Homo sapiens: one gene and its partners. The protein of the gene in region 2 purifies or fractionates together with the protein of the main gene of each other region. This does not show direct contact. Each region holds a gene or a part of one and is shown on either strand. Other genes may lie near its edges. The genes, in order: CD22, INPP5D and CLYBL.

Evidence for each region.
Region 1: the proteins of INPP5D (region 2) and CD22 purify together in Homo sapiens (affinity purification with western blotting; one study listed by BioGRID). This does not show direct contact.
Region 3: the proteins of INPP5D (region 2) and CLYBL purify together in Homo sapiens (affinity purification with western blotting, with the first as the bait; one study listed by BioGRID). This does not show direct contact.

The regions. Positions count from the first base shown.
Region 1 is NC_000019.10:35,335,593-35,339,237, reverse strand, and holds part of CD22 (B-cell receptor CD22 isoform 1 precursor), read right to left. Parts: intron 3,203-3,645; coding exon 2,897-3,202; intron 1,484-2,896; coding exon 1,217-1,483; intron 1,071-1,216; coding exon 807-1,070; intron 1-806. UniProt on the Homo sapiens protein: Most highly expressed siglec (sialic acid-binding immunoglobulin-like lectin) on B-cells that plays a role in various aspects of B-cell biology including differentiation, antigen presentation, and trafficking to bone marrow.
Region 2 is NC_000002.12:233,161,312-233,164,956, forward strand, and holds part of INPP5D (phosphatidylinositol 3,4,5-trisphosphate 5-phosphatase 1), read left to right. Parts: intron 1-412; coding exon 413-515; intron 516-2,395; coding exon 2,396-2,592; intron 2,593-2,995; coding exon 2,996-3,113; intron 3,114-3,645. UniProt on the Homo sapiens protein: Phosphatidylinositol (PtdIns) phosphatase that specifically hydrolyzes the 5-phosphate of phosphatidylinositol-3,4,5-trisphosphate (PtdIns(3,4,5)P3) to produce PtdIns(3,4)P2, thereby negatively regulating the PI3K (phosphoinositide 3-kinase) pathways.
Region 3 is NC_000013.11:99,605,484-99,609,631, forward strand, and holds the start of CLYBL (citramalyl-CoA lyase, mitochondrial isoform 1 precursor), read left to right. Parts: upstream 1-1,206; 5' UTR 1,207-1,212; coding exon 1,213-1,274; intron 1,275-4,148. UniProt on the Homo sapiens protein: Mitochondrial citramalyl-CoA lyase indirectly involved in the vitamin B12 metabolism. Converts citramalyl-CoA into acetyl-CoA and pyruvate in the C5-dicarboxylate catabolism pathway.

The DNA of each region.
Region 1 (3,645 bases), on a different chromosome or scaffold from region 2:
AGACCCAGGTCTTGCTCTGTCACCCAGGCTAGAGTGCAGTAGCAGGAACATAGTTCAGTCTGCAGCCTTCACTTCCTGGGCTCAAGTGATTCTCCCTCCTCAGCCTCCCCAGTAGCTGGGACCACAGGCACGCACCACCATGCTCAGCTAATTTTTGTATTTTTTTGTAGAGATGGTATCTCGCTGTGTGGCCCAGGCTGGTTTCAAACTCCTGGGTTCAAGAGACCCTCCTGCCTCAGCCTCCTAAAGAGCTGGGATTGCAGGCGGGAGCCACCGCACCTGGCCTCATTCATTCAACAAGCATCTACAGGCCGGGTGCGGTGGCTCACGCCTCTAATCCCAGCACTTTGGGAGGCCGAGGCGGGTGGATCACGAGGTCAGGAGATCGAGACCATCCTGGCTAACACGGTGAAACCCCGTCTCTACTAAAAGTACAAATAATTAGCCGGGCGTGGTGGCGGGCGCCTGTCATCCCAGCTACTCAGGAGGCTGAGACAGGAGAATGGCATGAACCCGGGAAGGTGGAGCTTGCAGTGAGCCGAGATTGTGCCACTGCACTCCAGCCTGGGAGACAGAGGGAGACTCCATCTCAAAAAAAACTAAAACACAAAAAAACAAGCATCTACCAAGCACCCTCCATGAGCCAGGCCCTATGCTAGGAGCTGAGACAGCAGTTGTGAACAGGAGACCCTGGCTGCTCCTTGCTCTTGACTCCAGGACCCCGGAATGCCCTGCACCCCATCTGCCTTCCCCGTTCCCTGTGTCCATCTTCTCTCCCTAGAACCAGAGGCTCCGTGGCTACTCACACTGGACATCCAGCTCAGCTCCCGGGCCCCTCTGTCCAGTACCAAGAATGTTTTCTGCCACACAGGAATAAGTCCCAGCGTGCCAGGGGAGGATCTTTGGGATGTGGACTTTCTCCTCTGTCCTTCCCTGCATTTCTTTCCCATTGTGGTACCACGTGTAATTTGTTGGAAGAGGATTGGCCAGTGACATGCAAAGAAACTCGACTTGACTTCCCTCCACAGCCGGTGAGTGGAGGATCTGAACCGTGGAAGGTTCCGGGGCATCTGGAAGAGGGGGCAGAGGCGAGTGGAGGGGTGAGGAGAGCACCCCCAACCTGTGCACACGGCCCCGAGAGCCCCCGTGGCTCCCCTCTCCGGGTCCACCCCTGCTACCTCCCTGCCTGGCCTGTCCCCAGCTCCGAGGGGCTCACACTGCACTTGCAGGAACACTTCTTCCGACCTTCCCGGGCCCACGTCATTGGAGACCTGACAGCAGTACTTCCCACTCTGGTCCTTGGTCACTTCGCGCAGGTTTAGCGTGAATGTATTCTGCTTCTTCAGCGAGGTCCCATCCTTGAGCCAGGATACCGTCGTGTACTCCGGGTTGCTGCTGCTGACCTCGCAGGTCATGGTCACAGAGTCCCCCTCCCTCACTATGGCATCACTGGGAGTGACCTTGATCTCCAACTTCGGGGTGTCTGGAGGAGCAGAGGGGCAGTCGGGGAGGGGGCGGGGAATCCTCAGAGGGTGGAGGGTGTGGAAAGTGCTTTTATTCTGACAAAGCCATGGCCTGCCAGTCCCTTCACCCAGGTGATGGTCACAGCCTCCTAACTCGGCTCTCAGCTTCCCCCTCCCACTTCCTCTACTTCTTGGTCTCCACCAGCAGCACGCAGGGTTCCTAACACCATCTACCAGACCTCGCCAATCCTGCTGGAAACCACGAGCGGGTTCTGTGCTTTGCATAGAATCCCAAACCCTCACCTCAGCCCTCGGGATCCAGAGTCCTGCTCCATCTCCTGCCTCCTGTCCTACCATGTGGCCCTCAGAGGCGGTGAACTTCAGCCTCTGAGGTCCTCCCACCCAGCTGCTGCCTCAAAGCTTTGAACCTGCCCTTCTCTTTCCCTGAAATCCTCCTCTCCCAAATATGTGCCGGCCTCAGCCACTCCCTCCGTTCCAGTCAGCTTAAGTGCTCACCTTCTTTTTTTTTCTTTTTTTGAGATGGAGTCTCACTCGTCACCCAGGTTGGAGTGCAGTGGTGCGATCTCAGCTCACTGCAAGCTCCGCCTCCTGGGTTCATGTCATTCTCCTGCCTTGGCCTCCCAAGTAGCTGGGACTACAGGCGCCTGCCATCATGCCTGGCTAATTTTTTGTATTTTTACTAGAGATGGGGTTTCACCATGTTAGCCAGGATGGTCTCGATCTCCTGACCTTGTGATCCCCCCGCCTCGGCCTTCCAAAGTGCTAGGATTACAGGCGTGAGCCACCGCACCCGGCCTAAGTGCTCACCTTCTTAGAGAGGTCTCTCTCCATCACTCCCCTCTCTCGGCCTTATTTTTTTCCTAACACACATATCACTACCTACAATAGTGTTGTATATTTCTTTGTTAACATTGCTTTGTTCCAGATTCTAATGTCTTGGCTCATGCTCTGTATTTCTTTGGTAATCCATTTGTTGTCTGTCTCTTTCACTGCAGCGCTGGCTCCGCGTGGGGCAAGAGTTTTGCTCACTGCTGCACCCTGCCCACCGCCCCATGCCCCCCATTGGCAGCCGTAATAAGGCCTGGTACCTAGTAGGTTCATGATACGTATTTATTGAATGAATGAGGCACAAGATAATGATGCGAAAAAAATCCCCACCAAGAGGGGAACAAAAAGACCTAACCAGATAATCCCCAATTCATGTCATGGCTTGAGGATGGACCATTTTATTCTGTTAGGCTAGAGCAAATCTTTTTCCCGAAACACCAGGGCTGACAAGGCGGCGTGACCAGGGCTGGAGGATGCCGCCGTCTGTGCAGGCTTCCCCCTGCCCTGGGTGCATGCCCCCTGCGGGGCTGGGGAGAAGGTGACACAGACCTTGCCCTTCCCACAGGCATGCCGGGGAGACTCACGCTTCACGTTCAGCTGCACCGTGTCATTGGAGAGGAACTTCCCATCTGCATCCTGAAGCTGGCAGGTCACAATCTTCCCATGGTGACTCCACTGTGGGGAGAACTTGAGCTCGCTCCGGGTGAAGACAGACTTGATGGTCAAGGAGGTCGAGGTGACAGCAGCCTGCCTCATTGGAACCCCCTCTAGGAGCCACTGCAATTGGATCGGATACCCATAGCAGGAGAAATTCAGCAAGCAGGTCAGAGTGACTTCCTGGGACTCTTGAATTTCTGGAGGGAGCTGGATATGAGGTGGAAAAGGCCTTTCTGCAAAAGAACAGAGCCCGTGCAGGAGCCTGGGGGACTGAGGACGTGAGCGTACACCTGGCTTTAGATGTCCTGTCCCAAATCACCCCTCAGGAACCCCTTGCCACTTCATTCCACCTCTCTCCAGTCCTGCTTTGTTTTTTTGTTGTTATTGTTGTTGTTGTTGTGTTGTTGTTTTTTTGAGATGGAGTTTCCCTCTGTCACCCAGGCTGGAGTGCAGTGGCGCGATCTTGGCTCGCTGTAACCTCTACCTCCCCAGTTCAAGTGATCCTCCTGCCTCAGCCTCCCGAGTAGCTGGGATTACAGGTGCCCACCACCACACCCAGCTAATTTTTCTGTATTTCTAGTAGAGACAGGGTTTCGCCATGTTGGCCAGGCTGGTCTTGAACTCCTGACCTCAAGTGATCCTCCCGCCTTGGCCTCCCAAAGTGCTGGGATTACAG
Region 2 (3,645 bases):
GAACTCCTGACCTCAGGTGATCCACCCACCTCGGCCTCCCAAAGTGCTGGGATTACAGGCATGAGCCACCACACCTGGCCCTCTGATACATTATTAATGAATCTCCTAAGGCTGGACAGTAAGGTTGCTTCTGATTTTTTTCTGTGCTGAGGCCTGTGCTGCAGAGCCGTGACAGGGTTGGACTTCTGCGCAGCTCCTGATCACTTTGTTAAAGTCGCACCTTTGCAGGGGAGTGTCTAGGCCAGAAGCCACTCGCTTATGACTTTGGACACATGTTTCCAGGTTGCTGTCCTGGAAGTTCACACTGATTTACGCTCCTCTCAGTTTTCTTGAAGCTGACCAAGTCCTTTGCAAAGTGTAATGTGCAGGGAGGCAGAGGCCTTTCTAAGTCTGTCTGCCCTTCCATCCCTAGAAGAGAGAAGGCTTCTGCCAGCTCCTGCAGCAGATGAAGAACAAGCACTCAGAGCAGCCGGAGCCCGACATGATCACCATCTTCATCGGCACCTGGAACATGGGTGGGTCCGCGCGCCCCCTCCCTGCAGTCACCCCCTCTGCTTCTGCTTTCCTGACTCAGGCATCCTCAAGGTGGGGTGGAGTGACGACATCCATGTCCCCTTCCTTCCTGCCCCAGGGCCCTGCCCCTAAGCCCCAGCCCACCCGCACAACCTCCTTCCTGAGGAATTCCACCCTTTTCCTGAGATGATGGGTAAGAAAAACGAGCTTTGGGACTATCGTACCCCAAGAGCAGCTGGCGTGGGTTACTCTGTATGTCTAAATTGGAAAGTTTTAGGGAAAGAGTCTGAATATCTAGGTGAAGGGGCTCATGGGAACCCTGCCAGCCCTAGGCAGCTCACCAAGGGGCCCCAGGCCTGAGAGAAAGAAGTCCACCCTGAGTAGGGTTGCCAGATTTATCAGGAGAGAGACAGAGAGAGACAGAGAGATAGGTACGTAGACAAAGGATGCCCAGTTAAATTTTAACTTCATAGAAACAATTTTTTTTAGTATATGTTTAGCTACAAACAAATAAATACTAAATATATATGCTCATAGACATTATGCTGAATATATAGTATATATACATATGCTAAATAAGTGTAATTATTATATTAAATATGAATTATACTAAGTAATATTAGTTTAAGCATACAGCTAATAATATACTAAATATATGCTAAATATATTTTGTATTAAACATATATATTGTGTATTTACTAAACACATGCACTCTACTAAATATAAATAATACTAAATAATTTTTTAGTGTAAGTGTTCAGGTAGAAATAAATTAGATAGAAGACATCCAGATAAACTTATTCTAAAAACTACCAGTTTATCTGAAATTGGAATTTCACTGGGTGTCGTGTGTCCCCTACCCTTGTCCTGAGAGGAGTCTGGGAGGAAGAGGGTGAGCAGTGGCTGGCAGGGGCCTCCTGGAAGTGAAGTGACAGCTTGTCACTCGTGTCCCAGGGCCACAGCAGCCGTGGAGTAGAGCCCGGGCCAGTGCCCCAGGGGGTCACTTGTCCCCTTCGGTCCCTTTCAGTGTTTCTAATAAGAGACAATAGTCTGCCTGATCTCCTCCCTCTGGACATGGTCAGGGATGTCCATGACACAAGGGCAGGGGTGCCCTTCCCACAGAAGAGTATGGAAGGAGCCAGCTGAGGCCATGCCGCAGGAGGGCCGGGGACCCACCAGCCCGGGGGTTCGGGCACCCACTTTGAGCCTCTTGGGGGAGCAGAATTTAGCCACAGTCCATTTACTCCAATGCTTGGCTTCTTTGCACTTGTAAGGCAAGAAGCTCATCTCTTTGAGGAACAAAGTTTGCTCATCCTTCAAGGGCATTGTAGGGAGAACCGTTCAAAATTTCTTGATTGAGCTTCTTCAACTCAGTTTTGAAATGGGAATGCGGAGGAGTTTCCACACTCTCCCGTTTCTCTGGCTCACACCCAGGCATCCCTCCGCTCTGGGCTGGGATCTGTCTTGCAAGGGAGACTTTGTTGTCTCCCAACAATGGGTTAGAACCCGCCATCTAAAACTTGTCAGTTCCCTTGGCTGTCTTGAGAATAGGATGTGAGTTCCTTGAGGGACAGGACTGTGTCTCAATTATCGTAGCCTCAAAGTGCAGGACAGTGTCTGACATCAGGGAATCTTCTGGTGTTTCTATACCTTGAAACTTGACATTACGTTTAAAAAGAGGCTTAACTGAGCTCTAGCCCTAACCGACATCCTGGGTGAGGTTGGCGCCCAGGCCTCCATTGCAGGCATTTCTTTGGGCTGCCTGGATGGTCTTGTGTAATGACGTGACCTCCCTCACACTCCCGCCCTCTGTTTTGAATTCTCCTAATGCTTTGACTCGATGTGCCTTTGACTCACTTGGTGTTGGGTTTTGCTGTTGAAGGTAACGCCCCCCCTCCCAAGAAGATCACGTCCTGGTTTCTCTCCAAGGGGCAGGGAAAGACGCGGGACGACTCTGCGGACTACATCCCCCATGACATTTACGTGATCGGCACCCAAGAGGACCCCCTGAGTGAGAAGGAGTGGCTGGAGATCCTCAAACACTCCCTGCAAGAAATCACCAGTGTGACTTTTAAAACAGTGAGCAGCTGGCTGCACGCTGGGTGGGCTTCCGGGATAGAATCTTTGCTCGGCTGGGCTGTCTCAGAGGCAAGGGTGGGCTCAGCCTATCAGCTCTCAGTTTTCAAGGATGTCTGGAGGCCCCCACTGAGAGATGCGTCTGTATTCAGAAATAAATGGGATCTGTGGGGTATTGCTGAAAACCACTGAGTCCTCTATCTTCCCACCCTTGGTCAGCCCCGGTTCTCATCTTTAGGATGTTTTGTCTCGCCTATCAAGCATCGCTGGGAGTCCCCCGAAGGGTTGGGATTACAGACAGGATACCCCATACCCAGGGGCTGCGGCTGGGGCTGGGTGTGAATCACTGTGCCCTGGTTCACACCCTACACTTGGGCCGAGTATTGCAACGTTGTCCTCCCACCAGGTCGCCATCCACACGCTCTGGAACATCCGCATCGTGGTGCTGGCCAAGCCTGAGCACGAGAACCGGATCAGCCACATCTGTACTGACAACGTGAAGACAGGCATTGCAAACACACTGGGTGAGCAGGGCGGGGACCCTGTGTTCCTCCCACACCCTCTGCCTCAACTCTCGCGACCACATCATCCTGATCCCACCAGTAGTTCCCCGGGTTAAAAACAGAGAGCCTCACATCCTCAGATCCTGGCTCAGTCCTCAGCAAATAGGGGTGATTGGTCTCCCTGGCTGAAACTCACTCAGGGTCTACACCAGCAGTCCCAGGGATCTAGCTAAAATGCAGGTTCCGACCCAGTAGATCTTGGGTGGAGCTCAGGGTTCCAAGTTTCTGACAGGTTCCCAGGCGACTTGAGCGCTGCTGGTCGGCCCGTGGGACCCATTTTAAGAAGCAAGAACCTAGAAGAGGCATTGGCCAACTTTTGCAGGAAAGGGAAGGGCCTGACAGTAAATATTTCAGGCTTTGCAGGCCACTCAACACTATTCCTCTCTGCCTTTCTGGTGGGAAAGCAGCCATAGGCAACCCAGAAAGCGAATGGGAGTGACTGTGTTACCAGTGAGACCTTCCTTACAAGCACAGGCGGGAGGTGGCTGGCCCC
Region 3 (4,148 bases), on a different chromosome or scaffold from region 2:
CATTATGAACAAAATATCAAAATTTTAATTAAAGACAGGATTGGTGTTACTGAAATTGCCTTTGCCTCAGGCTTCAGTATGGCTGGACCGGGCACTGGCTGGGACTAAGGTGGTGACAAGAAAGTGACCAAATTGGAGTAGACAGGCGAGGCCTGAGGTGGAGCAGGCGTGGGAGCTGGGGGAGGGCACCAAGGGGTTGAGCAGTCTCCCCTGTTGGTATCGAATATAACAATAATTCTTAGGCTCAGCAGAAGTTTAGCATCCATGTTCCCAGTCACCTGGACTTTTCCAAATCTTGGAACCCCCTCTGGCTGAAAAGGCTTTTGTTTGTTTAAACGGCCACTTTTTGCATCCAAGAGCACAAGTCAGCTTCCACTGGAAGGTTCTGAGAAACGGTTTCAGGTTTAAGTCTAGAGCATGAATGGAACGGAGTCACAGCTGAAAAAGAAACATGCCGAGTGCCAAGGAAAAGACATGGTTAAGGGGTAACATGGGCCCGGGTAGGTGAAGGTCGGCAGGTGGAGGCCGGCTGGATCAGGGAAGGTGAAAGAAGAGGCAGGGGCAGGGCCCAGCCTGTTTTAACGCCTCGGCGTTCTCACCGCTGCAGAACGGCTGCAGGGGGCAGAGTAAAGAGCTGCTGTCAGTTTCCCTGCCCAGAGAGTGCCAACAGCTGCTCTGACCTATTGCAGGCATGTGTGTTCCAGGATGCAGCCTTCCTGCACTTTGACCACTCTAGATTAATTGCTAACCAAGATATGCACATGATGGGGCTCACAAAGTATTAGGCGGTATTTTAACAACAAAAGCTGCGAAGAAATCCCTAGAAATGTTGGCTCTTCTGGCTGGGAAAACGCAGTCTGTCAACAGTTGCCTCAAAAACTCAGAAGCTCAGAGAGTTGGATTCGGTCACCAGAGAGGCCCCTCAAAGAGGCCCCAACCATTCAGATCCTCTGCTCTGTCCCCCATGACAGCGGGGACGAAGGTCCTAAGCCCTGGCCGGGAGGGCAGTTGACCTCGGGACTCGCCGCGGGGCGGAGCGGGTGCTGGGAGGAAGGAGGGCGTGGCTGGCGGGGTGTGGCTGGCGGGACGGGGCGGGGCGAAGACAGAGCGAGGCGGGGCCTGGGACGGGGGGGGGGTCGGTGTCGCCGTGGGGGCGTGGAATGTGGGGTGGGCGTGGCTAAAGGCAAAGGGCGGGGCGCGCGCGTCGGGAAGATGGCGCTACGTCTGCTGCGGAGGGCGGCGCGCGGAGCTGCGGCGGCGGCGCTGCTGAGGCTGTGAGTGCAGGTCCCCGTTCCCCGCCTTCCCGGCCCGGCTCGCCGCGGGTCGGCTCCTGTTGCAGCCCCGCGGGCCGGGCGCGGCCTCCCCAAGCCCTCACGGGAACCCAGCCGGACGGAAGCACCATGCGCCTCCCACGCGCTGGCTCGACCTCGTCCAAGGTCGCTGCCGCCCGCGCCTCCCTTTGGGAGGGCCCTCGTTGCACCCGGAAAATGGGTACACACCTTAGGTCGAATTACCTGGACTCAGCCCCAGGAAACAAAACTGCCTGCCTCCCCCAAATGGCAAACGTGAACGCGCCAGTCTTTGAGAGGCGGCTTGCCTGGTGAAGAACACCTGCGGTTCGTTTAACACAGCGGTTCCCAAACGGTTTGGTCTCAGGACCCGTTTACACGTCTAAAAATAATTTGAGGACCCCCCAAAGCTTTTGCTTATATCTATTGATTTTTGTGCATGAGGAATTAAACCAGAAATTTAAAAAATATTCACTTAATAACAAACCCATTAACTTTTAATACAAATAACACTTTAATGCATAACTTCTCAAAAAAAAAGTGAGAAGATTGGCTCATGGTTTTTATATTTTTGAAAATTTCTTTGGTTTAATAAAGGACAGCTGGAGTCTCATATCAGCTGTTTTGAAGGAAATATTTGAAAGAAATTCTGGGCTCATGCAGATGCAGATATTAGTTGGGAAAGGGAGGACCAAGCAGACCCTCTCAACGGGTCTCAGGGACCCCCTCAGGTGTCTTTGGACCACACTTTGAGAACCGCTGGTCTAGCACTTGCCCATCGCCTAGGTACGTGCACATACATGGTCTCATTTGGTTCCCTTGACCACCATGTGAAGAAGTTGGGTGTCATGTTTATAAAGATGAAAAAACAGGGTCAGAAAGGTTAAGGATTCTCAAAGCCCTATGACCAGTAATGAGAGAGTTTGGTTCAAACACTAAGTGTATGGCTCCTGGTCTGGAACTTCTTTATTTATTTATTTTTATTTTTTGAGACAGAGTCTCGGTCTGTCACCTAGGCTGTAGTACAGTGGTGTAATCTCGGCTTACTGCAACCTCCACCTCCTGGGTTCAAGCGATTCTCATGCCTCAGCCTCCTGAGTGGCTGGCATTACAGGTGTGCACCACCACCCCTGGCTAATTTTTGTATTTTTAGTAGAGACAGAGTTTCGCCATGTTGGCCAGGCTGTTCTCGAACTCCTGACCTCAAGGGGGTCCACCCGGATCAGCCTCCCAAAGTGCTGGGATTACAGGCGTGAGCCACCATGGCCGGCCTGGTGGTCTGGAACTTCTTTTTTTTTTTTTTTTTTTTTTTTTCCGAGATGGAGTTTCGCTTTTGTCGCCCAGGCTGGAGTGCAATGGCGCCATCTCAGCTGACTGCAACCTCCGCCTCCCGGATTCAAGTGATTCTCCTGCCGCAGCCTCCGGAGTAGTTGGGATTACAGGGCGTCCGCCACCATGCCCGGCTAATTTTTGTATTTTTAATAGAGACGAGGTTTCACCATGTTGGCCAGGCTGGTCTGGAGCTCCTGACCTCGGGTGATCCACCTGCCTCGGCCTCCCAAAGTGTTGGGATTAAAGGCGTGAGCCACCGTGCCCGGCCTGGGTCTGAACTTCTTACGTCTTCTTGCACTGTGACTCTTCAGTCACCCATGTCCTATGGGAGGACCCACCTAGTCTTATGCATCCCACTTTCCCATTTCCTCCGCTGCCCCTGGCACAGGGGAGTCACCCCTCGCCCTAGAGGAGCAGCTCAGGCAGTGTATCCAGGCTGGTCCAGAAGGGTCCTTTTCTGGCGCCTTTTGAGGGGGCCAGCGTCTGTGACCTGTTCAGTAGCGGGTCCAGTGAGCGCACACAGTCCCCACGCCAGTACGCTGGGGGTTAACTCAGTGCTCCTCACCCGCCTTAGCACACTGGTCTGTTCTCGACATGTCTACCCGCTGAATATAGGATTCTTGATTGGCATTTTTTTTCCTTTGAGCATTTTAAAGCGTATTATCGCACTGTCTTTTTGCCTCCATTATTCTAATGAGAATTCAGACGTTAATGTTATTAGGGTTCTATGTAAGTGATGAGTCTTTTTTTTTTTTTTTTTTTTTTTTTTTTTGCTTGATTTTCTCTTTGTCTTGGTCTTTCGGTGGTTTTATTATGATGTGTGTAGATCTGTTTGAGTTTATCCTCTTGGAAGTTTATTGAGTTTCTTGGATGTGTATACATCAAATTTGGGAAGTTTTTGGCTATTGTTCTCTCAAAAAAGTCTACTCTCTTATCTCTCTCTTCTCTTTCGGAGGCTCCCATTGCGTATATGTTGGTGTAGTTGATGGAACCCCACAGGTCTTTGAGACTGTTCCATTTTCTTTCTGTTCCTCAGGCTGGACAATGTCAATTGACCTGTCTTTGTTTTTTTTTTTTTTTTTTTTTTTTTTGAGACAGAGTCTTGCTCTGTCACCAGGCTGGAGTTCAGTGGCGCAATTTCTGCCCACTGCAACCTCTGACTCCCGGGTTCAAGCGATTCTCCTGCTCCAGCTTCCCGAGTAGTTGGGATTACAGGCACGCGCCACCACGTCCAGCTAATTTTTGTATTTTTAGTAGAGACGGGGTTTCACCATGTTGGCCAGGATGGTCTCGATCTTCTGACCTCGTGATCCACCTGCCTTGGCCTCCCAAAGTGCTGGGATTACAGGTGTGAGCCACCGTGCCCAGCCGACCTGTTTTTAGGTTTGCTGATTGCTCCGTCTTCCAACTCAAATCATTTTCATTTTAATCCAGAACTTCTTTCTTTTTGGAGAATGAGTCTCACTCTGTCACCCAGGCTGGAGTGCAGTGGTGCAATCTGGGCTCACTACAACCTCTGCCTCCTGG